7 linked regions of the Homo sapiens genome follow. The protein of the gene in region 3 purifies or fractionates together with the protein of the main gene of each other region. This does not show direct contact. Each region holds a gene or a part of one and is shown on either strand. Other genes may lie near its edges.

Region 1 (3,500 bases), on a different chromosome or scaffold from region 3:
TGCCTACTGTGCAAGCCGCCCAGACTGTGGCACTTTTATTTTTTAATTTTTTGAGATAGAATCTCCCTCGGTCACTCAGGCTGGAGTGCAATGACGCGATCTCGGCTCACTGCAACCTCCACCTCCCAGGTTCAAGCGATTCTCCTGCCTCAGGCTCCCGACTAGCCGGGATTACAGGTACCCACCACCACGCCCGGCTAATTTTTTGTATTTTTAGTAGAGGCGGAGTTTCACCATATTAGCCAGGCTGGTCTTGAACTCCTGACCTCAGGTGATCCACCCGCCTTGGCCTCCGAAAGTGCTGGGATTACAGGCATGAGCCACCGTGCCCGGCCTGTCTGTGGCACTTTTAAAATAACAACCCAAACTGACTAAGACAGCCCCCAAACACCTGAAAACAGTGGTTCTAGAGGGCGTGGGTGGTGTGAAGGGGCTGGGGCCGGGAACTCATTGTGGGGGGCACCATGGCTGTGGGTGGAAGGTTTCCCACCTTGGGGGCTGGTGAGCTGTGCTGATGGCCCCATGGATGCTGCCTGGTAGCAGGACAGGACTTGGAGAGAAGGCCCCCTCCACGTCTCCTAATGCAGTCGGCTCCCTGTGCAGCCTGCTCTCCCCCTGCCCTCCCCCACTGGGCCCCGCAGAAGGCCACATCGGCACTGCCGCACTGCCCCACAGATGTCACCCCAGCTCCATCCTCAGCCCTCCTGTCCACACAGCCACTTTCCCCACCGCTGCTGCCAGAGGCACCAACTCCCACCCACACCACAGCCTGAGCTCCCCAGGGGGCTTGACCACCAAAGAAACACGCATGGTTTTGTCTACAGCCATGGAAGGGGAAAGCGGGGAGCATGCGTCCAAGACATTTTACAGTTCTAGGCGGTTCCAGTGCTGCCAGCCAGACCTGTTTCATGAGTACCACAGAACCTGTACAGCTCAGTTTGGGTAACCCTGCCTGGAGGGAGCTGCGCTGGTGCACCTGCGCCTAAACCACTGGGCTTGTCACCAGCCAAGGGCCTCCTGTGGACCCGGGCTGCCACCTGCTCTCACAGCACACCTTCCCCACCAGGCACCCCATGACTCCTCTATTCTTCCTTTCACTTATGTCTGAGGGTGGCAGGGACATGGGCAAGGAGAGGTGTCAAACTCGCCGCTCAGGCACACGGGCTACGCAGCTGCTGGCCAAGAGCTCAGCAGCCTAAGTGGAGGGAGGCAAGCTGGGCCATGGAAGCACCAAGGCTGCTGGCAATGGTGAGGGCTCTTTGGAGTTCCCCCAGCACTCTCATCTGCCAGCTATGCCACCCTCCTGACACTCGCCTGCCAGCCACACCACCCTCCTAACACTCACCCTCCAGCCACGCCACCCTAACACACCTTCCAGCCACGCCACCCTCCTAACACTCACCCTCCAGCCACGCCACCCTCCTAACACTCACCCTCCAGCCACACCACCCTCCTAACACCCTCCAGCCACGCTGCCCTAACACACTCACCCTCCAGCCATGCCACCCTAACACTCACCCTCCAGCCACGCCACCCTCCTACCAGCCCCATGCCTGGCCTGGCTAAACCCACTGTGGTTTCGGGTCTGCCCTCAGCTGCTGCTCCCTCAGTGCGAGTTTACGTGTCTGTGGGACTGATTGCTCCCTGTCGCTCCCCCGACTACAGATGGGCTCCTGGTAGCCAGTGACTGGTGTGCCTGCTCACTGCTCCCTCTCGGTACCCAGCACAGGCAGGCAGGTGAAATGAGCTGAGGTCTAACTGAGCATTAGGTGTCGGCCAGGTGCAAAAAAGGAGAAAGGGTGTTCCAAGCGTGCAAAGGCCCAGGAGCCTGAAAGAGCAGGACGTGTTTACGTACCCAGGTAGCTTAGCAAGGCTAAAAGGGAGTGGGCTGGGAAGGGTGGGAGGTTGGGCCTGGGGTGGGGCTGGCTCCACTTGGTCACACTGAGCCTGCTAACAAAGGAGAACCAAATTCCCCACAGCCTCCCGACCTCACAGCCTCAGAAGCAGGAGCATCTCGGGCCAAGGGTGGTGGGGCTTCCAGGCACTCCTGAGGTCTGCAGGGAGAGCCTGTGAAGGTCGGGAGTGCTGGGCAGGGGCCAGGAGCTCACCGGGCTACGTTCTTATGGACGCTGGAGGTGCAGTTTAAGGCCGCGTGAATCAGCAGCTGGTTGAAGACGTCTCTCTGAAATGTCAATCGGGCATGTGAGTCTCCTGTACCTCAGGATGGGGGAGGCGAGCCCCCGCCCACCGCGGGCTGCCTGCTCTCCAGGGAGACAGTGGTGTTGATGCCACACCCTCAACGACGAACTTACACGGCGGGAGTGTGAGAGACACGTTCACACCCACATTGTTGGCACCAACACCATGGGAGAAACTTGGGGGCTGCGGGGCGCCCAGACTCCCTGGCCCAGGCCCTAGGCACCCCAGCTGGCGGCCATCGGCTCACCTGGGCATTGCTCCCACCGAGCTGGACGATCCGGTAGCGGATGGGCAGGAGCAGCTCCAGGACGCGGTCAGGGTTCCCGTCCTCAGCCTCCACCAGGGCCTGGCACAGGGGCAGCCCCACGTCTCGGGCCAGGAGGTGCTGGCAGTTCTCCCCTGGGGATCTGCGAACCCAAGACGGTGCCCTCAGCTGCCTGCCCATCACAGAACATCCGGGAAGGGCAGAGCCATTTCTTCCTCAGCGAGGTGTCCCTGGTCCAGTGCCTGACACATGCCACACTGATGAGGTGAGGTGACAGGCGGGGCAGCCCATCGAGGGGACAGGACAGGGTACTGAGCTCAGAGCTGGGTTGGAGTTCGCCCACTTCCAGCTACCTGGTCCCCCACCTTCCAGCCTCAGTTTGCTCATCTGTAAGCAGGCATAACAGTGCCAATCTAACAGAACCGTCAGGATTGCTGATAATACAGGCAAAGGCCTGGCACTGCAAGCCAAGGCAATCATCACCCCCGGAAGGGAATGGGCAGGGCAGCCCAGGTCCTCCAGGTCAGCCCTCACCAGCTCTTGCCAGGCATCGCCCTGATTTAGATGGGGAAACTGAGGTTCAGAGCACAGAAGCACCTCGTCCAGGACCTCAGGGCCTGTAAGCAGCAGGTGTCTCTGGCTTCAGGGCTTCACTGTGTCCTCTCCACGGGAGGCAGCCCTGTGACCCTGCGGATCTCATACCCACCCTGGGGATGGAGGCAGCTCTGTGTCTTGGGGCAACCAGTTGTACAGCTGTGGGTGTACACACCTTGGGGGTCTGCACCAGGGGATGCACATCTATAGGGGTGCACACCTGGGAGCTGCCTCCATGGGCATCCCCCCTGCTGCACTCACAGGCGGGGCAGGCACTGAACAGGTCTCAGCATGGCCCTAGCACCCCCTCACCCTCTCGGCAGGGTGAGGACCCCCACCCCGAGAAGGCCCCTCTGCATACTCGCTGGCGTCCCGCAGGGTGGTCAGCAGCTCCTGTGTGGTCTGGGGGTCGTGTGCACCCAGGGATGCCATCAGGAAGTGT
Region 2 (3,500 bases), on a different chromosome or scaffold from region 3:
CCACGTTTTGTAGGTGAGCAAATAGATACAGAGACAGTAAATGACTTGTCAGGGCTGGATGCAGTGGCTCACGCCTATAATCCCACCACTGTGGGAGACTGAGTTGAGAGGATTGCTTGAGGCCACAATTAAGCAACATAGTAAAGCCCCATCTCTTTAAAAAAATAGAAAAATTAGCTGGGCATGGTGGCATGTGGCATATAGTTCTAACTACTTGGGAGGCTGAGGTGGGAGGATTGCTTGAACCCAGGAGTTTGAGGGTACAGTGAGCTATGATTATGCCACTGCTCTCCAGCCTGGGCAGCAGAGAGAAACCCTGTTTCTTAAAAAGGGGAAAAAAAAGACATCAAAATTGATTCAAAATAAGGAGTTGGTAGGGAGCTGAGTGGGGAGGGAAATAATGTGTAATTGGTTGTGAGTTAATAATTGTTGAAGCCTGGTATGGGTACATCGGAGCATTGTATGCTTCTCCTTTCTATCCATTTGAAATTTTCCATAATAAAAAATTAAGATAAAAAAGCTACATCGAAGGCCACAGTTGGTTGCAGATGAGATTTCGCGCCAAAGGTCCTTGCAGGATGTCAGAGACACCCAGGTGCTCGGGCAGATTTTGACCAGCTCTCTCTTGCTGACCTCCCCAGGCATCCTGATGCTGGATATGGCCAGGCATTACTGCGTTCTGGTCTCAAGGCCATGGTGAGGAAATAATGAAATCCTTAGAGACCAGGGCCAGGTAGAAATCTTGGTTAAGTTCCTACTTTAGTCCTATAGGGAGGCCTTGAGCAAGCAGAGATCTCAGGTTTCTGAAGGGAAAATACTCCAAACCTAAGAGGGTTTTGTTTCATGTGTGTTCAAGATACCCCAAGGATATGGGGTCAGTGGTCCTGCGGCTGCTGCTGGGAGCCTACGATTTGCTGCTGCTGGGAGCTTTCTCAGGGGACATGGGCCCTCCTCTCCCAACCTGCAGTCACCAGAGGTCTCATTCCATCCCTGGTTTTTTCATTACTCCTGAGTGCTGGGAGAATTTTAGAAATGAAGAAAAATTAGCTCAAATGAAAAGAGCTGGGTGTGGCCGGGTGTGGTGGCTCACGCCTGTAATCCCAGCATTTTGGGATGCCAAGGTGGGCGGATCACCTGAGGTCGGGAGTTCGAGACCAGCCTGACCAACATGGAGAAACCCTGTCTCTACTAAAAATACAAAATTAGCTGGGTGAGGTGGCACATGCCTGTAATCCCAGCTACTTGGGAGGCTGAGGTGGGGGAATCGCTTGAACCCGAGAGGCAGAGATTGCGGTGAGCCAAGATTGTGCCATTGCACTCCAGCCTGGGCAATAAGAGTGAAACTCTGTCTAAAAAAAAAAAAAAAAAAAAGAGCTGGGCGTGGTGGTGTGCATCTGTAGTCTCAGCTACTTGGGAGGCTGAGGTGGGAGGATCGCTTAAGCCTGGGAGGTAGAGGCTGCAGTGAGCTGAGATTGTGCCCCCGCTCTCCAGCCTGGGTGACAGGGTGAGACTCTGTCTCAAATAAGTAAATAAATAAATAAAAATTAAATTTTTTTAAAAGAAGACTTCTTATCTCCCAAGGTAATGAAGAAGAAAATGGGATGTTGCTTGTCAGATGCCTCCTTGGCAGTGACTAGCAAATAATGGTGGCTGCCACTCTTATTGCTGTCATTCAGTGTTAGGATAATGCTGATGGGCAGGAGCTAGCAAGAGTACTAGCTCCTCTCTTGCCTGGGGCTTGTTATTCATTTGGCTTTCCTGAGGGCCAGCTCTGAATTGGTTTAGGTTTGATCTGGTTTATTATAAGGTAGGCCTACCTGTTCAGAACTTGAAACTTGGCCCTGGTGTTACTCAAAAAAACAGGAAAACTGACATTGGCCCAAAGCACAATTTATTCCCTGAGTGTACCAGCCTAATGAGTATTTCCTGGGCCTCTCCCTCCCTGTTTCCTTGGACAGTAGCCTATTCCAGGTGTCAATTCCTCATTAAAAATGGTGCCTGCTGTCATCACAAGCTCTCAAGAGAATGGACCACATGTGCTATTTATGTGTGCCTTACACCTGACCAGTCGGCACAAATTTCTGGGCTGGTTCATCCCTGTTTGTGAAGCATCTGTGCATTCAGTCGTTGTTCGGTGCTGGAGCCCAAGATGCTCTGGGCTGAAAGGTACCTCCTGTTTTGGCAGATTCCAAGCTACTCCCTCTTTCTCCTTCCCCATGTGCAGGCCAGGCTACCAACGTCTTTGTGAACATGGAGGAGGACTTCATGAAGCCAGTCATTAGCATTGTGGACGAGTTGCTGGAGGCAGGGATCAACGTGACGGTGTATAATGGACAGCTGGATCTCATCGTAGATACCATGGGTAGGAATTGACTCTGAGAGGCACCTAGAGGCAGTTTTATGGGTTCAACTGGAAGGGAACTGGCCTTGGACATGTCAGTCTTGCGGTGGGTGATGTTGAAATGCCAGGTGGAAGGCCATTTCCCATTACATCCGTCTACCCCGACCTTGATTATTCAAAGGGTGGGGAGCTGCACGTGGCTGTGACCCCTCAGAAGCCTGAGCCTACCTGGGTTTGGGGGCCCTTAGGTATGATTAAAGAAAAGAACACCACCTGTCTCTACCACAAAACTTAGACATTTTCCTGGTTATTGGGCAAATGCGCTGTTTAATTAAGGGAGAGCCTCATTTTTGTGCGACATCACAGTCGATGTTGACCACTGCAGAGTGAATTAAAACTAAACCCTAATGACTGTAACCCTGAAGACCCAGGGGAAATGGTCTTTGTGGAATCCTGACTCCTGCCCTATCACCTACCACCTGTTTAATTTGCTCACTTCCAAATTAAATAGGGCCTGGTGGAGGCTCAGAGACAGGTTCTCTGAACTGGCAGGGTAATTGAGGCACAAGGTCTGACGGATGTGACACGCCTCGTGAACCAGAAGGATTGAATATTTTTGTGATGGGTAAACAAGAGACACCAAGGACAATTTGGAAAGCTGCTGCATTTCTCGATGAACATCCCAGGTGATCCTTATCACTATCTCGTTCACGACATCTCTCAGTCCTCCTCACAGGCCTGTCTGCCTCCAGAGGTCCCCAGTTCCCTTCCTAAAGAGCAGATGGCGGTGAGAGATGCAGAGGCAAAATCAGTCAGGCTTTGCAGCTGTTAGGTTTCTCCCAGCAGCCTAGGTTTCACTGGGAGTCAGAAATGCAGATGCTCAGGCCCTACCCTGATCTTCTGAATCAGAATTTGCATTTTAACAAGATCCTGAGTGAGTTTCATGCATATTGCAGTTTGGGAAGCACCAACTTTTAGGACCTAGACTTTTTTCCTATTCTATCCAGCTGTTAATGCCAGGCCTTTCTCTTTGTCCTTCTCACCAGGTCAGGAGGCCTGGGTGCGGAAACTGAAGTGGCCAGAACTGCCTAAATTCAGTCAGCTGAAGTGGAAGGCCCTGTACAGTGACCCTAAATCTTTGGAAACATCTGCTTTTGTC
Region 3 (3,500 bases):
AATGGAACAAAAGTATGAGTGCAGTGCACCAACTTCAAGTTATTTCCAAATAAAAAGTTAAAAAAAAAAAAAGTACAGCAGAAGTAGTATAAATATCATCTTGTGAAACTTTTATCTCAGTTACGAATATGTTCTTTCTTTCTAAGGGTCATTCGCAGTCAAAAGAATTTAAGAAACATGAGACTGTAAGCACTATTAAAATACAAAAATTCAAAGAAAGCAATCTATTTTTTCTGGATTTGCATTTTTAAAATACAAATGATAAATGTTTTAAAGTTTTTTCAAATGTTACAGAACTGTATTAAGTAAAAATGCAAGCCTCCACACCCTTATTAAAGTCCCAGTCCCACTCTCTAGAGCTAAAACCATTGGCAACAGATGGTATTTGAGAGGCTCAAAATAGATTTTCCAAAAGCCAAGCAACCAGTCTTCGAGAAAGGTTTAGGTGAAGAAGTTCCCAAGCATGGTTACTGTTTATAATTCGGTGAGCTAGCAGGAAGGTTTTTGGGTCCCAAAAATAGAGGTAGAATGTATATGTGAGTGTGGGGTGGGGGTGGGGGGTGGTGGTGATGACGTAGGAGGCATAAAGGAAGGTGGGAGGAAAGGCACCTGTCATTGCCTACTTCATATTCTTGCTGTGGGTTAAGTGTGAAAATAACCCACATTAGCATAACTAATAACTATCAAGCATAGTTTTATAAATGCTAAGTCATGATAATGACTCCTTTAAATAAGCCACTGTAGGTTTGATTATGTAATATGTTGGGATCAAACTGGTGCATATTCTTCACTACAAAGATGAACAGAACCATATTTTATGTACCAAGCAAGCTTTCTGTATAAATACGTGATAAAAGCAAGGGGCCTAGAAAAAAATGAGGAATCGTTTCTGTGGCTAGACTGAACTCCTCAGTACAGGCAAAAGAGAAAGAACATGTGTAATGCCCCAAACCAAGAGGAACTTCTCAAGGAGCTCTTAAACCAAGGATGAGGACCTTGGCTGACTGAAGAAAGCTGTTAGTCCTTAAAAGAAGGGGAAAAAGGCAAAACATCCTTACATGTTTCTGCACGTCTCCCCCAATCTCTTTACTGATCTTCAAGTACTCTGCCACAGGACCAGCAAGCAGCGAGTCAAATGCCTGCACATATGGAGCTGCTCCTGCTAAAGACAAACACACCACAAAGAATCAGCCATGCATCAGAAGGAGGCTTCTTTAAAACGTGCTTCTACATGAAAGTGGGGAGGCAAGGTAATACAGTCAACAGGATACAGAACAGGAGTAAGGAAACCTGGGTTCCAGGTCCAGTATCACCACTAACTGGTTGTGTGACCCTGACTAAATTCCTTTTCCTCTCTGAGCTTAATTTTCTTTATCTATAAAATGAAAATAAACAAAATGATCCTCCAAGGTTTTTTTTAGTGCTAACATTCTATGTTCCAACTGGTGCATGTGCAAAATGTCCAATTTGCCAATTGTTTGGAGAGAGGAATTTTATTATCACTTGTCATTTGACTTACATTGGAGTCATTCTGCTAAAGAAAGAGCAGGAAATATTGCACAAGCAGGAAGTTCTTGTGTTAAAATAACTTAACCACAGGCCTCCCTGTACAAGTCATTTCCTCTCTTATCTGTTCACAGCAATACAAATTACAAAAGGTAAACTTTCTAGATTAAGTTTTGGGAAGTTAGCGCCAAAGGAGAGAATAATAGAAAATTTTCAGGCCAAGACGCTCAAAGAAAGCATTCTGCTGGGCTGTGGACTGCTTACCTTTTGAAGGACTGTCTGCATACCCACGGTGCATGTCAGAGGTATGAGATACTGCCTCCAGGCGGCCCACTGCCCTCTCCAATCTTTCTACCAGATTTTGCATGTCAGCCATAATGGACCACCTGCTGAAACAGATCAAATGTCATTTGTTATTTAAATATTAAATAGCACCTACAGAGAAAAAAACAGAAAATTCCTGGTCATCCCCAGGTGGATGAAGAGGATGCCAATTCTCAGGAACAGAATAATTTAATAAAATTAGATATCATCTGCAAAATGGAACAATACAAAAATATCAGATAAAAAAGTAGCATATTTACAAAATCAAAAGACCTCATTAAGCAAGAGAACTGCTCAGGAAAAGGTGTTCACTAAAGTAAATGCTTACTCATTCAAATACTCAATATTTACTATGATACTGTGTGTAGAAAGTTAGAATTTGCAAAGGATAGTCACATACATTATCTCAGTTTGAGCCTCCCGACAACTATTCAGGAATAGAAGGATGATTACTACACGCTTAGAGATAGAAAACTTAGTTTCAGTGAAGCTAAATGACTTGTCTAGTCACACGGCCAGTGAATAGAGAAGCCAGTACTCCATCATATCCTTATCTGATCCTTCTGGTTCTAAGTTCAGTGTGTTTTTTTCCTACAACATCCTGCTGCCTGCATGTGAAATATCCCAAACCAAGATGAATAGGATGTTTACTCTTCCCTCAATAATTTTTTTTTTTTCAGACAAAGTCTTACAATGTCACCCAGGCTGGAGTGCAGTGGCAGGATCTCAGCTCACTGCAAGCTCCACCCTGTTGGGTTCAAGGGATTCTCCTGCCTCCCAAGTAGCTAGGGTTATAGGTGTGCGCCACCATGCCCAGCTAATTTTTTGTAGTTTTAGTAGCGACAGGGTTTCACTGTGTTGGCTAGGATGGTCTTGAACTCTTGACCTCAAGTAATCCACCCGCCTTGGCCTCCCAAAGTGCTAGGATTACAGGCGTGAGCCACTGTGCCCGGCCTGCCCTCAGTAATTTATAGTCTAATGGGGAGACTTAACATATGCACTAACAACTATGAAACAAATAGAAAAAAATGTTAAGGTGACATAAGAAAGTTGCTGATAGAGAGGCATGAGATTTCAAAGAGGGGAGTAATATATCAGCTGGAAGGATCAGATAAGGATATGATGGAGAAGCTGCCATTTGAGCCAGCCTTCAAATGAAGATGAGAAAGATCTGGACATGCAGTAGGGAAGGACACTAGACACATCCAAAAGAATTTGTTATAGATCTTTCACAAGTACTATCTTATCTGAAATAGCCTAATTCAATGTCTAATATCCCAAAGAAAGTAAGCTCCAACAGAGAAAGGACCTTATATAGCTTGTTCCTTACTGTATACTCTACCATCTAGACTACTACCTGGCAGGTAGTAGATGTTCAATAAATATTTATGAAGTTATAAACCTCACAAATAGCATTCCAAAACTCCAGAGGGATAAGGGTGCTAAAAGTTGCCCATAAGTCACACATAAGTGTAAAATATGATCAATGCACCTCTACATAAAGTATTTGAGACCCTAAGTGATCTCATAAAAACCAGTCAGTGAAATTTCAATCCAAGCTTTGACTTGGAAAGATTCCATTTCACAAAAGCGTCAATTCAGGCAACTGAATTCAGTTCAGGTAACTGAAGCTGAATGAACTCAACTCCCTTGAAGCTGCCTAAAATGAC
Region 4 (3,500 bases), about 28 Mb from region 3:
AGGTGAAGGAGTCCTGGGCTAGGGGCAGGAACTCAGCTGGTGGGACAGGCAGCTTGGGAAGCAAAAGGCTACTTGACCCTTGATGCCGCAAACATCCCTGGGCCTGGCCTCATGTCTGTGGCTGGTGATGACATTGCTTTGCCGCAGGTCTTCCTGTCTTCCTGAGTGACCTCAGGCAAGTCACACCTCCTCCCCACAGGGGACTCAGTTTTCTTATCTTTACAAAAGGGAAGTGAACCGGATCCACTGATTGCTGATTTTGTGGATAAATGGGCCCTTTTGAGAATCTGATGAAAGCTACGGCTCTGCTCCCAGAGAAACGCAGAAAATGCCCTTTGCCTGTGGTTTCTGGGGGTTAAGAAGCACTGAGTTCAGATCCACGCAGGTCAGGAGCTATCTGTTTTCCTTTTTTTTTCTTCTTTTTTAAGATGGAGTCTTGCTCCATCGCCCAGGCTGGAATGCAGTGGCGAATTCTCGACTCACTGCAACCTCCGCCTCCCAGGTTCAAGTGATTCTCCTGCCTCAGCCTCCCAAGTAGCTGGGATTACAGGCGCACACCACCATGCCCGGCTAATTTTTGTATTTTTTTAGTAGAGATGGGGTTTCACCATGTTGGCCAGGCTGGTCTCGAACTCCTGACCTCAGGTGATCCACCTGCCTTGGCCTCCCAAAGTGCTGAGATTACAGACGTGAGCCATCGTGCCCAGCCCTATTTTAATTTTTAAAATAGAGACAGGGTCTCACTATGTTGCGCAGGCTTGTCTCAAACTCCTGGGCTCAAGTGATCCTCCCACCTTGGCCTCCCAAAGTGCTGGGATTACAGGTGTGCGCCAGCGTGCCCAGCTGAAATACCCATTTTCCTATGTGCAGACTAATAGGGTCAAACATGGGTATTGGGGGCCAGGCACTGTAATCCCAGCACTTTGGGAGGCCAAGGCGGGTGGATCACCAGAGGTCATGAGTTCAAGACCAGCCTGACCAACATGGTGAAACCCCGTCTCTACTAAAAATACAAAAATTAGCTGGGTGTGGTGGCATGTGCCTGTAATCCCAGCTACTCAGGAGGCTGAGGCAGGAAAATCACTTGAACCTGGGAGGCGGAGGTTGCAGTGAGCCGAGATCATGCCACTACACTCCACACTGGGCAATAGAATGAGACTCCATTTCTAAAAAACAAAAAACAAAAACACACACAAAAAACATGAGTATTGGAACCCTGCTGCAGGGGCTCCCTCCACTGGGACAAGATCTGTCCTGATCATGCCCAGGCCTCCCCTGCATGTGGCTCTGGCATTTTCTCAGTGCTGCTCTGCCTACTCAGAGAAGGCGCGTCCCAGACCCTTTCTCTTGGGGCTTCTCTGAGGTGCCTGGAGCTGGGATGTTCCAGGTCTTCGTTCTTCTCCCAGCCCCTGCTTCTGACTGTAAGTAACCACAACAAGTACAGGGGTTGCCGTGGATTCTGTGCTCATGATGGGCCAGGCTTGGTGCCCCACGCTTGTTCAACACAAATCCTCCCCCTCACCCCATGAAGAAGGGATTATTCCTATTTTATAGATGAGGAAACTGAGGCTTAGAGAGAAGTGACTTGCCCGAGGACATAATCTACTCACTGCACAGCTGGGATTTGAGCCCAGCTGGTTGGACCCTGAGCCTGACCTCTGGGTCTGATGCTGGGTGGGACTGTGCTTTCTGACCCCCAGATGAGGTCGTGCTCAAGTTTGAAATGGGCCATGTGAGAGCGAGGAACCTGGCCTATGACACCCTCCCGGTCCTGATCCATGGCAACGGGCCAACCAAGGTAGGGGGTCCCCAGCCCCTGGGGAGTGTGGGAGGGGGCCAGAGCCCTAATTTCATTCTCACTGTGACCCCACAGTGTCTCCCTGGGGCCAGGGCCACCTTCCTGGGGCCTGCTATGAACTCACTGCCTCTGTCCTCACATCTGAGCTCAGCGTGATGCCTTCTTTTCCTGCTGTGGTGGTCAGTGGTACTCTGTCTGTTCTTGCTGGTCACAGGACACGTAGGAGGCTGCCATCCCCTTCCAGGCCTAGGCTGGGCTACCAGAGCCATCTGCACTGTCACCCCAGGGCAGAGTCACTTATTCACTCAGTAAACCTTTATTTCATGTTTGCACCAGACAGTAAGACATAGTCATAAGCAGGACGGATGTCCTGCATTCATGGTGACAGAAGGGACTGGGTGCAGATGCGGCCAGGGACAGAATGGACCTCACTGGTCCCTGGGGAACTGGCTCATAGCTCATAGCATATTTGAGTGTGGTCCTTCACCGCTGGAATGAGGGAGAGGAAGGAGGATGTGATGTGTTTAAAATGCAAATTTGCTGATTTCACCCAGGATCTGTTCAGATGGAATCTCTGAGCGGGGTGGGACCCAGGAATCTGCATTTTACAAGCTCTCGGGAGAAGCACTAGAGTGCCAAGCCCTCCCCTGCCCTCTCTCAGAGCGGCTTGGTGATCTCCTGGGGATGGAGCATTATCTCCAAGACCCTCTTAGGGAGTGGGAGGGGGCTGGATGGTGCTGACCCACTGGGGGCCCAGGGAGATGTGAGTCAGGGCTATGGCAGGTGGGGCTGGCTGGCTTCTCTGTGACCCCACGTCTCCCCGACAGCTGCAGTTGAACTACCTGGGCAACTACATCCCGCGCTTCTGGACCTTCGAAACAGGCTGCACCGTGTGTGACGAAGGCTTGCGCAGCCTCAAGGGCATTGGGGTGAGGCTGCGCCCAGGCCTGTGCCTGAGGGACACGGGGGGCTCAGTCCCCTGAGATGGCGAGATGGGTGATTCTGGAATAGACTCCATTGTCTTTGGTGGAAAGTGAAGGGGTCACCTCCCTGCCTGGGGTTCTATCCCGGTTGCCACCCAAGTGCCTCCTCCTGGAAGCCCTCTCAGATTGCATGTCTCTAGCTTCCCCCGAGATGTCCAGGTTCTGGTTTCTTCTGCCTGGTCCTTCAGGCTCTCCTGCAGCCCCCTCCCCATCCCATGAACCTCATCCTCATTTATGACTCACCTCGAACACCACGCCAGCCACGATCTCCTGACAGCAGGCCCTCAACCGAGTCCTTGTTCCAGGCCTGGGCTCCTGCTGCTCTCTCCCCGGGGCACCCTCCTGCTGCTTCCCTGCCCCCCCGTACCCCCTGACTGGAGTTCCCCGGCCCGGGCACCTTTCTTGGGAAGTCTACATGCTTCTGATTCTGGCTCTGACTCCCTTGGGCCACCCTGGGGTGGAGTGGCAGTGCTGTGACTGGACACTGCTGGACTCTTGTGCCGCCCTCCCTGGTGCAGGATGAAGCTCTGCCCACGGTCCTGGTCGGCGTGTTCATCGAACAGCCCACGCCGTTTGTGTCCCTGTTCTTCCAGCGGCTCCTGCGGCTCCACTACCCCCAGAAACACATGCGACTTTTCATCCACAACCACGTGAGTAACAGGCGCTCTGTGGGGTCGTCATGTGGCTTAGATCCAGGGCCCAGCTTCACAAGGTAGCCC
Region 5 (3,500 bases), on a different chromosome or scaffold from region 3:
CCAGCCACCCGCTGGGGAGAGTGACCAGCGGTTCGGTCTCCCTGACAGTGTGACTCCTTTAGACGGGGTGGCCCCTGCCAGGCCTGCAGCGTCTCCAGGTTGCACAGAAGGGCTGGGGCAAGTAGAGATGGAACCCTACCCGCTGTTTGAAGTGGACCCTCTCCTCCAGGGTGAGTGTGTCCGCCTTGGCGATGACAGGGACGATGTTGACCACCTTGCTCAGGCGTTTCATAAACTCGATGTCCAGGGGCCTGAGGCTGAAGCAGAGGGATGTGCGTGAGGCTCATCTGGGGGAGCGGGGCAGTGGGGGGGCACCCACCCCCAAGCAGGTGTCGACACTCTCAGGTGCTGGCTCGGGGCTCACGGGGGTCCCTGCTGGCAAGGACAGGGCCCCGGGCCGAGTCGGCCACGCTGTGAGTGTGGGGCAGAGGAAGGACACGGGTGTGTCCCAGACACAGGTGACACCACTGCACAGGCCAGGCGGGCCAGGGCCAGCTCCAAGCACCCTCGTCCATGAGTTCTGGGGTCCCAACCACACCCCTACATGTCCACACAGAAGGGCTGTCGTTGGCTCAGCAGCCGTCTTGCTGTGGGGCTTTGGCTGGGAGGGGAGAGGCAAGAGAAATAGAAGCTAGCACCAGTGTGCGGTGCCCCTGCACCAGGCGGGCTGCTCCCCTGCACCAGGCGGGCTGCTCCCCTTGCCTGCTTGGCCCCAGTGAGCCTGGGGTCTGATGTGGGGAAAGCTGTGGGTGGCAGGGGCTGGCAGGGCCCTGGAACTGGGGCACCATCTTCCCCAGTTCTGGAGCCGAGCTTTTCCCACAGTGAGAATAAATCGGTCACACACATGGCTGGGGAGAAGCCCGCTCCGGGCAGAAGTTTAAGCAGAGATGGCCAAGGCCCGCCCCTGCCCCATGGGACTGGACGCCTTGGGCGGGACCAGGCAACATGCCTAGCTGGAGTCCCAGCCAAAGGGTCAGTGCTGGGGAGTGGCAGAAGTGCCACAGACCGCCCGCCCGCCCTCGGCTTGCCCAGCTGGCATCAGGAGAGGCTTCTGCCTCCTGCCATCAGCCTCAGCTGAGGCAAAGCTTGGAGCAGCTGGAACAGCTGCCACAGGACCGCAGGTGAGCCGTTCTGCCTGGGAGGGCAGATGTTCAGTTCAGGAGAGGCCCATGGACAGCGGGCTGGCCCCCTGCCCCTGACTCCTGCTGGCCCACAGAGGATGATGCCAGAGGGTGGGCTCGAAAACTCCGGCTTGGGTTTTCCCACAGACTCTGGGTGAGGCCCGCTGCCCACCAGCCAGGCTCCTTCCTGCACCTGGTGCCCACAGAGTATGGTTTCCCCAAACCCCTGGGCTTCCTCCGCCCAGGGAAGTACATCTGGGACAGCAGGTGCGAAGGACCTTCTCCACCCACCCATGCAGACAAGCCACCCACGGCTGCCTCCACCAGCCACTCCTGCTGGCCTCTGGTCCTCCTCCTCCCAGCCCTGGCTCAGGGTGAGCCACAGGTGTCTGGCAGGGGGTGCACAGGGAGCTGAGGACAGAGGGTCCGTGAGGCCATGAAGAGTCCACCTGCCAGGGTACATGCAGCCTCCCGCCCTTGCTGATCTCTAGGGGCGACGTCAGGTGCGGACAGAGCCGGCGGGAGGAAAGGGCTCTCACCAACACCAACAGCAGCCCCGTCCAGCCCTGGAAGGGGCCAGCACTGATCTCTGTGCTTCCCGTCTAAGAACGCACCAAACCCTCTAAGGGGTCCCATGAGGCAGGGCCCGGATGAGAAGGTCAGTCACCGCTACGGGTGCTTGGCTGGGGGCTCCCACTCCACCTGCCAGAGCCTGGCCTGAGAAGGCAGGACACAGACCACCAGGCTCCAGAACAGCCCAGGGCCTGCCTGACCCTCAGCTCCCCAAGACGCAGCTGAAGGATGGGGGCTGGGCAGGACACTTGCATAGGGGTCAGTGTGAGGCTTTGGAGGTGCAGACATGGCACACCCCCAACTTCATAGCTGGCGGCCATGGCCCCTGACTCAGCCCCTCTGCACCCAGCAGCAGGGCAGACAGCACCGTCTTGCAGTCCCAGGGGACAGAGGGAACCCAGGGCACCCGGCATGAGGACGCCGACACTGCAGGGACGTACGAGTGGCCGGTGGCGGGGATGAAGTAGAGGCAGCAGTGGACGCGGGTGTCCGGGATGCGCTTCTTGCGGTTGATGTTGACCTCCTCCTGCAGGTATTTCTCGTACTGGTCATTGATGAACTTCATGATGGGCTGCCAGCTGCGTGGGGGATGGGGACGAGTCAGCAGGCACATGAGATGCCCTCCCCAAGCAGGTCGTGCATTCCCAGGACTCAGAGCCCAACACCCCACCTTCCAATGAAATGCATGCCCTGGGAGGTCTGGCTTGCTGAGCGGAGATGCCACAGCCTTACCCTCGGCCTCCCAAACCAGCCTCCCCGGGCTGGCCTCAGGTGATGAGTTGGGGACAGCAAGATTCCCCAGGTAATTCTGCTTTGGTCCAGAATTTTCAGGCCCCTGAGACGTGCGGCTTTGGCAGCATGTCAGGTCCCAGGAGGTGGGCCCTGCACCCCCGCGGGCCGGGAAACCTCTAGGGCTGACTCTGGGTGGGGTCCAGGGAGCCCTGAAGCCCCCGCTAGTGCTCCTCCCCCTGGAGGGGCCTCACCAGTTCTCGTTGTTGATGTGGTCCCCGAACCCTGGTGTGTCAATCACTGTCAGCTTCATCCGGACGCCTTTCTCCTCAATATCTGCACAGAGCCACGGACGCAGAGTCAGAGGGGAGACGGAAGACCCTCACAGACACCCCACACCTGACTGACCCCGGGGCAACCCCAGGTAGGCAGCGATGACAACCAAGGAGACACCGGGAAATTAATGGCCTTCCTCAGCCAACTCCGGCACAGGCCGGTGACGGTTCCCCTGGGAGCCCCTTGCCTGTCAGACTTTTGGTGGAAAACTCAGTTGTCTGTGGGGAGCTCAGTGTGACGGGGCCCACAGGGGTCCGGGACACTGACCCATCACAGCCAGAGCCCCAACATGCTCAACATGCTGGGGATGGTGGGCACAGCGAGTCCCCGTCTTGGGGACCTGGGATTGCCTGACTCGGGCACCCTCACACCGCACCAGTGCTCCAGGAAGGCATGGGTATCCCACATCCCCAGCCCATCCCCAGCCACTGACCGTGTGTGATGGTCTTGACCCCCAACCCCTGTGCTCCAGGAAGGCAGGGGCGTCCTGCATCCCCAGCCCACTCCCGGCCACTGACTGTGTGTGATGGTCTTGACCCCCCACTCTGTGCTCCAGGAAGGCAGAGGAGTCCTGCACCCCCAGCCCGCCCCTGGCCACTGACTGTGTGTGATGGTCTTGACCCCCAACCCCTGTGCTCCAGGAAGGCAGGGGCGTCCTGCACCCCCAGCCCACTCCCGGCCACTGACCGTGCGTGATGGACTTGATCTCGATGGTCTTGGGGATGCGCTCCTCTGAGGTGG
Region 6 (3,500 bases), on a different chromosome or scaffold from region 3:
GGAAAAGGGCGGGGGAGAAGGATTAATCTTGTCAGAAAACTAAGGTCAGTAGAATAAAATACAAGAAATTAAGTTGACAAAATGAAACATAATGAGAAAAATTTTTTTGGACAAAAACAATTCAAAATCAGACTTGGCTAATAATACCAGTCTGACAGATTCTGAGAACTAAGGAGAGCCAATTGATGTTATTTTGCCCAGAGCTAAATATACTTTTCTTAAAAGTATGACAGTATCTGGTTCCTCTGACCAGCCATTATAATAATCTTTGCAATACACTGAACATACACATGGAATACAGAAGTCTCTATTTAAGGTCACCAGTTAACTAACTTAATAGGCAATAACGCTAGCTAACAGTAAGACATAAAGGCAAATGTTTGGAGGCCAAATCAAAATCACTTGCCTAGTCTTCTGACAAGATAAAGCAGCGCAATATAGTTCTTTTCCATTGGAAGACAGCATTCTACCTCCTGTTCAAGTTAACAGTCTCATCAGTACAAATATAGTGTGCTAGTCAGACAGTCCCAAAGCAAACCAATTTTTTGTTAACAATTCAGGCCCATTAAGAGTTTGTATCTGGTTTGTCATTTTTCAAGGGTAGGGGTACTTTTAAAAAACATAAAATGTAGTATTTGTAAAATAAATATGAAACAGGGTCAAAATTTAGACTATACGAGAACCTGTCCCATTCCGTAACTCAGTGTAATTTACACTGCAGGAAAAAAACTATACCTCTCAAACTTTAAGATCAGCCAATTTCCCCTACCCCCTACTTTGAGACTACAACATAACTAGCACTTCCAACTATTACAATAAAAAGCTGCATGTACGAAGAGCTGTGTAAATGAAAACATGGTTAATGCCTCAGTCGCTGCGCAAACGTGACTTCAGTTCATGTCTACCGCCCTTAAATCTACCTGAGCTACCTCACAGATAGAACCTTGCAATTTAAACTAATTAATCATGACGCGCTGTGAACATCTGCCGCTGTCCATCCAATAGTAGTAGACACTTGTGCTGAGGATTCTCCCATCTGTACACAATGGGGAAGAAGATAATAGAAGTCATTAGTAATCAAAAGTACTGCATAGCCACATTGTTTAAAGGACTGAATGCCAGCTGGACTGGAGAGAGGAGGAAAAGGAAGGGTTCCAATCAGTAAACCCCCTGAAATTACTACAGAACCAAGAAAATACTCTCCCTGTCGTGAGCTTTTGTAAAGCTATGTGGATATGAAGATAATTATTTAAAACTTCTAAGATGTTACAAGGGGTGTCCAATCTTTTGGCTTCCCTGGGCCACACTGGAAGAACTGTCTTGGGCCACACATAAAATACACTAATGATAGTTGATGAGCTTAAAAAAAATAAAAAATAAAAAAACTCACAATGTTTTAAGAAAGTTTACAAACTTGTGTTGAGCCACAGGCTGGACAAGCTTGCTGTAAGAGCTTGAGATTGTGTAAGAGGTATCTATATAATTTTGGAAAGCTACCACCATAAATGCTCAGTGCAGAGATAAACCCTGAGAAGAGAAAGAAACAATACTGTGTATCATTAAGAATTTAACTTTTAATAATTCTTAAATTAAAAACTGAATATCAAATGTTTTCTGTAATACATTTCAAGCTCAATAATCCAGATTTCAGGTTCAAAATTCCTAAGGGCCTTAGAAACTTAAGTTTAAATCCCTATAAGAATGAATTATAAGAACCTGAGCAGAAACCTGGAAGGCAAATGTTGTCATCCAGCAACCAATATTGAGGTCTCTTGAGCCTAAGGGTAGATGTCTCCCATGTACAGGAGCTATACAGAGCCTCCCCCCAGCCCCACAAGATGAAGTCTCGCTCTGTCACCCAGGCTGGAGTGCAGTGACACAATCTCGGCTCACTGCAACCTCCACCTCCTGGGTTCAAGTGATTCTTCTGCCTCAGCCTCCCAAGCAGCTGGGACTACAAGCACATGCCACCACGCCCAGCTAATTTTTGTATTTTTAGTAGAAATGGGGTTTCACCATATTGGCCAGGCTGGTCTCAAACTCCTGACCTTGTGGTCTGCCCGCCTAGGCCTCCCTAAGTGCTGGGACTACAGGTTTGAGCCGCTGCGCACGGTCAGTATTTCCTTTATTTATTTATTTATTTTGAGATGGAGTCTCCCTCTATCGCCCAGGCTGGAGTGCAATGGTGTGATCTCAGCTCACTGCAACCTCTGCCTCCTGAGTTCAAGCAATTCTCCTGCCTCAGCCTCTCAAGTAGCTGGGATTACAGGCATGCGCCACCACGCCTGGCTAATTTTTGTATTTTTTTAGTAGAGATAGGGTTTCACCATGCTGGTCTCATGCTGGTTTTCACCAGGCTGGTCTCGAACTCCTGATCTCAAGTGATCCACCCACCTCAGCCACCAAGAGCGCTGGGATTACAGGGGTGAGCAACCGCGCCCGAAGCTATACAGAGCCTTTTAACATGAGGTCAAAATACTCTCTTCTACCTGTTATTACAGCAATCCAAAAAAAGTTATCTATTTTCAAATTAACAATCTGAGACTCTACTTTTAGTAGCTAATTAGTTGTATCACAGGGAAACTTTTTTTTTTTTTTTTTAAATATTTAAGAGCTCAAAGGTATACAGGCAGAAAGTGGAAAATCTCACTACTACTTTTTATTCTAAGCTCACGGTGTTTCAGATATCTATTTCACAACCAAGACCATGAAACCCATCATAGTATTTGTGACTACTATGAAAACTATGACATGTCAGTCAGCCTTGCTGCCTGCTGTGTGCTGTATATAAGTCCATTACATATTCCTTATAGCTGGATTGAAAACCTGAAAATGAAATGAAGTCCCTAGAGAAACTTGGCCATGCTGGTGCTTTTTACCAAGTTTGACAATTTAAAAAAAAAAAATCAGTGTTCAAAGGAGACATACAAAAGTCCATTTAATGTAGCAGAGATGTTTAGGGGATTACAATTTCTATCCCCTGGTAAAACCAATACTTGGTAGAAGGATAAAGAAAAAGCCACGTGAAATAATACTGAATAGCACCAGAATAGCCTTACACTAAAGCTCGCATGCGCACAGGGCTGGGAGGATGGCTTCCTCTTGCCAGGCCCTTTAGGTCATTTCAGCAATTGTTCTGTTAAACATAGCATTAATGTTATCAAGACACAGCAAGCAGCAGAAAGCTTGTGGAGTCACATTTCATAGTGTCTCATCTCCAAATCAGATAAAAGTGGTATACAGGGTTCCATCCAGAAAGCATTCAGTCAGAGCAAGTTAAAGTCAGTACTTTCTAACATACTTTTAAGATACTTATGCTGAATTAGCCCAAGGGAGAAAAATTAATGTGCTTGATGTATTTACTAAGACTTGCATCTCAAGTCTTCAATAATGCCTATTTTTGAAAGAAACCTAGGCAACGAATTGAAGAGACTTGGAAATGTGCCAATTCCCTAAATGTTTTTCTCCCTGTGGGATAATTTTTTTTAAAGGGACAATAT
Region 7 (3,500 bases), on a different chromosome or scaffold from region 3:
CCCCCAGCAGGTAAAATACTTTGCAACATTAGAAAAGTACCATCATCATTAAATATTTCATGCAACTTAAGAATAATCTAATAAAAAAAGTGTGATTGTAGAATAACTGAGATTATTCTGTACCTTACCTAGCACAAGACAGGACGATAATGGCAAAGCAAAAACCATTTCTTCCTTTCTTTTTTTTGAGACAGAGTCTCCCTCTGTCGCCAGGCTGGAGTGGAGTGGCGCCATCTCGACTCATTGCAACCTCTGCCTCCTGGGTTCAAGCAATTCCCCTGCCTCAGCCTCCCGAGTAGCTGGGATTACAGGGGCATGCCATCACACCCAGCTGATTTTTTGTATTTTTTAGTAGGGACGAGGTTTCACCATGTTAGCCAGGATGGTCTTGATCTCCTGACCTTGTGATCCACCCGCCTCAGCTTCCCAAAGTGCTGGGATTACAGGGCCAAAACTGTAATCTAAACCAAGCTCTAAAACTGGTCTAAACCCAGCTCTAAATATTCCCTAGAATAGTGAGAATGAAAAGTGCAAAACAAAAGATGAAAAGTACAAGGTTTTCTTTGTAAATCAATTGCCAGCAAGTCAGTATTGAAACTGCCAACCACTTTTGGAAGACATACATAGTGAGTGTCAAGTGTGCTGAGGAGAAAACACCTTCCCATTTATAGTTTTTATGAGAAAAAGTTTTAAAAAAAGTATATTTGACAAATGTTAAAAATATAAAGAGAAAAACATTTAAACAATAAAACCTAATGAAAGTAGTCTGAGTGAAAATAGAGTTTCAGTGAACAGAGTTTTATTTCATGAAGCTACTTTATAGAATCTGCTTCACATGCAGCATACTTAATGATTATTCACATTTCTTTGCTTTGCTTTTAGAGAAAGTATTTTTTTTTCCTAGCTTCATGCACCAAATCAGCCTTGTAGGAAAAATGAAACAAAACACAACAGAGTGAGGAGACATCAGGCTGAGTTAATAAAACACTGTTCATATGATACTTACGCAGTGGTAGTCTGCATGTCATGCCAGCTTTTGCTGAAGTTCTGTTTTAATTCATTCATCAGGTTCATGCCGAGTTTTTGTTTTATCTCAACTAGATGCCTTTCTTTCGCTGACAAAACTTGTCGTAGTGTTGTAATTTCGTCTTCTAGCTACAAGGCGGAGGGGAAATGGTGGGGGAAAATGTCAGACCAGCAAAAAAGGATACTTACAGAAGCTCTGGGTATTCCAAAGCAGCCTCTGACCCTCCTATTTATACAATCCCATGTGTAGGTTTGCCAAATACACCCCATACAGATGATAGTCTAATATCTCAAAGTAGAAACAGAATTTTTCATTTTAATGATTATAGAAGTAATTTATGCTGCTTGTTAAAAAAAAAAGTGAGATTGTACAGAAAAACATAAACAAGAAAATAAAAATCACCTGTATCCTGCTAGGAAATAGCCACTGCTTATTTTTTGGTTTCTAAACTTCCAAATGTTCTTTCTATAAGTTGTATATAGACATAATTTTTGAACAAAAATTGGTTTTCTACTGTACCCTTATTTTATATAACTTCTTCTCAAGTGCCACTTTATTTATTTATTTTAAAGAGACAGGGTCTCACTATGTTGACCAGGCTGGTCTCAAACTCTTGGCCTCAAGGGATTCTCCTGTCTTGGCCTCCCAAAGTGTTGGGATTACAGACGTGAGCCACCACGCCTGGTCTCAGTGTAGTTTATTTTTTGCCAACCACACACAGTTGCATAGGTGCAGGAATGGAATTGGCAGACAATGGGGTTTTGCCAAGCTAATGCCTTAAGAAAGGAAGGAACAAGGGATTAGAGGATGTATGTAAAAGAGTGATTTGTGTTGATTTTTCTTTTTAACAGTTTCATTGACCTGTAACTGTCATACAATAAGCTGCAGACATTTAAAGTGTATATGTATAATTTGTAAGTTTTAACATATGTATCTACCCGTGAAGCCATTATCACAATCAAGGAAGTGAACATATTCATCACCTTTTACTTGCTTCTTCTTCTTCCTCCCTCCCTCTTCTTTCCTTTCCCCCAATCCACTCTCACCAGACAGCCACTGACTGACTTTCTTTCCCTAGGGTTTAGTTTGCAGATATTTACTAGAATTTTATACAAATTGAATCATAGAGTATACACTCATTTTTGCTTGGCTTTGCAGATAGTTATTTTATATTCATCTATGTTGCTGCATTATCAATGGTTCTTCCCCTTTTTTTGCAGAGTAGTATTCTATTGAATGAATATGCCAAAGTGTGTTGTTTATTTGCCTGTTGAAGGGCATTTAGGTTAGGCTAATGCAAATAAAGCTGCTATGAACATTCATGTACAAGGCTTCGTATGGACATATTTCCTCTTTCCCCTGTGCTACAGAAAAGCAGATCTCTTCAGCACTATAAAATTGCTCTTGCAAATGCAATTTCTAACAAAAGAGCTCTGTAAAGTACTCAGATTTTGGAAAGTGCTGTTCTATCCTGTGAAAATAAATCTGAATAAATCACAAAGTCTTTGATTTTAATTAGTTGTCATACTCTATAACATATTGCTCTGGTATCAGTGCTTACATTTACATCTTTGTTTTCTGAAATATGGAAAACAAATTTTGTGACTTTTCCTTGTTAAGCCGGAAAAGAATCATTAGAACTACCTTAGTATCCCACATGCATGGAGGTAATAAAACTCTGTCACTTTAGTGGATTTCTTACTAAATTTTTTTTAAAAAGGAGCAACTGTGGCTCATTTACTGTAAAGTGTCACTCTACTTCGGACCACAAGCTGCATCACACCAACCCTGTCAGGCTGTCAGTCATCTTGCAAATGCGTTCCTTGGATCACCAGAGTCACAGCTCCTGGGAAAGCAGCTCAAGAAGGGCATCTGCCTTTGCAAAAGCAAAACATGCAATAAAACCCCCCAGTCTTTCACTAGCGCCAATAGTGAACAGACAGAAATGGTTTTGCGAACCTTTATATACACAAATAATCACGTAAGCAAAACAAGCAGAAATACTGAATCACAAGCATCTTAAATACCACAGTAAGAAGTAGCAATATCTTGGGGTTTTTAATATCAGCAAAATGTCCTGGCAATTTAACATTATCCATTTCTTTATGTTCACAGAACATTTTTTATATGTACATGGACATCTTTCTAAAATCTAAAGTGAATTACATATTCTACAAACATAGTATAATCAATAGAACCCTGTCTTTCCTTGATGAGCAAGAGTCTTCAGTGTGCATACATACACTGATTACTGTAAAAGGAGTATGTTTAGGGACCAGTAAAGAGAATAATGCTTTTAGTCTCTCCATTAAATGAGAATACACTGTTATTTTAAAATTAAGCCCTTCTATTCTTTTGTTATCATGTCATATTTCTCTTTTTCATCTTTGTCAATGTGTCCTCCTCCATTTAATCTGCTGCCCAATATTTCTCATGGTTGTATCTCTTGCTCTTTTACCACAGAAAATGCTTG

What was found.
Region 1: the proteins of CAP1 (region 3) and TTC38 fractionate together in Homo sapiens (co-fractionation; one large-scale study listed by BioGRID). This does not show direct contact.
Region 2: the proteins of CAP1 (region 3) and SCPEP1 fractionate together in Homo sapiens (co-fractionation; one large-scale study listed by BioGRID). This does not show direct contact.
Region 4: the proteins of CAP1 (region 3) and PLOD1 fractionate together in Homo sapiens (co-fractionation; one large-scale study listed by BioGRID). This does not show direct contact.
Region 5: the proteins of CAP1 (region 3) and SEPTIN9 fractionate together in Homo sapiens (co-fractionation; one large-scale study listed by BioGRID). This does not show direct contact.
Region 6: the proteins of CAP1 (region 3) and OGA fractionate together in Homo sapiens (co-fractionation; one large-scale study listed by BioGRID). This does not show direct contact.
Region 7: the proteins of CAP1 (region 3) and TPD52L1 fractionate together in Homo sapiens (co-fractionation; one large-scale study listed by BioGRID). This does not show direct contact.

The regions. Positions count from the first base shown.
Region 1 is NC_000022.11:46,288,508-46,292,007, reverse strand, and holds part of TTC38 (tetratricopeptide repeat protein 38), read right to left. Parts: coding exon 3,420-3,500; intron 2,607-3,419; coding exon 2,447-2,606; intron 2,183-2,446; coding exon 2,109-2,182; intron 1-2,108.
Region 2 is NC_000017.11:56,998,631-57,002,130, forward strand, and holds part of SCPEP1 (retinoid-inducible serine carboxypeptidase precursor), read left to right. Parts: intron 1-2,224; coding exon 2,225-2,362; intron 2,363-3,387; coding exon 3,388-3,500. UniProt on the Homo sapiens protein: May be involved in vascular wall and kidney homeostasis.
Region 3 is NC_000001.11:40,057,729-40,061,228, reverse strand, and holds part of CAP1 (adenylyl cyclase-associated protein 1), read right to left. Parts: intron 1,896-3,500; exon of another isoform or gene 1,893-1,895; 5' UTR 1,883-1,892; coding exon 1,771-1,882; intron 1,163-1,770; coding exon 1,059-1,162; intron 1-1,058. UniProt on the Homo sapiens protein: Directly regulates filament dynamics and has been implicated in a number of complex developmental and morphological processes, including mRNA localization and the establishment of cell polarity.
Region 4 is NC_000001.11:11,955,217-11,958,716, forward strand, and holds part of PLOD1 (procollagen-lysine,2-oxoglutarate 5-dioxygenase 1 isoform 2 precursor), read left to right. Parts: intron 1-1,700; coding exon 1,701-1,798; intron 1,799-2,625; coding exon 2,626-2,727; intron 2,728-3,299; coding exon 3,300-3,431; intron 3,432-3,500. UniProt on the Homo sapiens protein: Part of a complex composed of PLOD1, P3H3 and P3H4 that catalyzes hydroxylation of lysine residues in collagen alpha chains and is required for normal assembly and cross-linkling of collagen fibrils.
Region 5 is NC_000017.11:77,487,499-77,490,998, reverse strand, and holds part of SEPTIN9 (septin-9), read right to left. Parts: coding exon 3,447-3,500; intron 2,760-3,446; coding exon 2,678-2,759; intron 2,273-2,677; coding exon 2,135-2,272; intron 258-2,134; coding exon 140-257; intron 1-139.
Region 6 is NC_000010.11:101,794,445-101,797,944, forward strand, and holds part of OGA (protein O-GlcNAcase), read right to left. Parts: intron 1,528-3,500; coding exon of another isoform or gene 1,397-1,527; exon of another isoform or gene 1,037-1,396; coding exon of another isoform or gene 957-1,036; exon of another isoform or gene 1-956.
Region 7 is NC_000006.12:125,226,773-125,230,272, reverse strand, and holds part of TPD52L1 (tumor protein D53), read right to left. Parts: intron 1,156-3,500; coding exon 1,007-1,155; intron 1-1,006.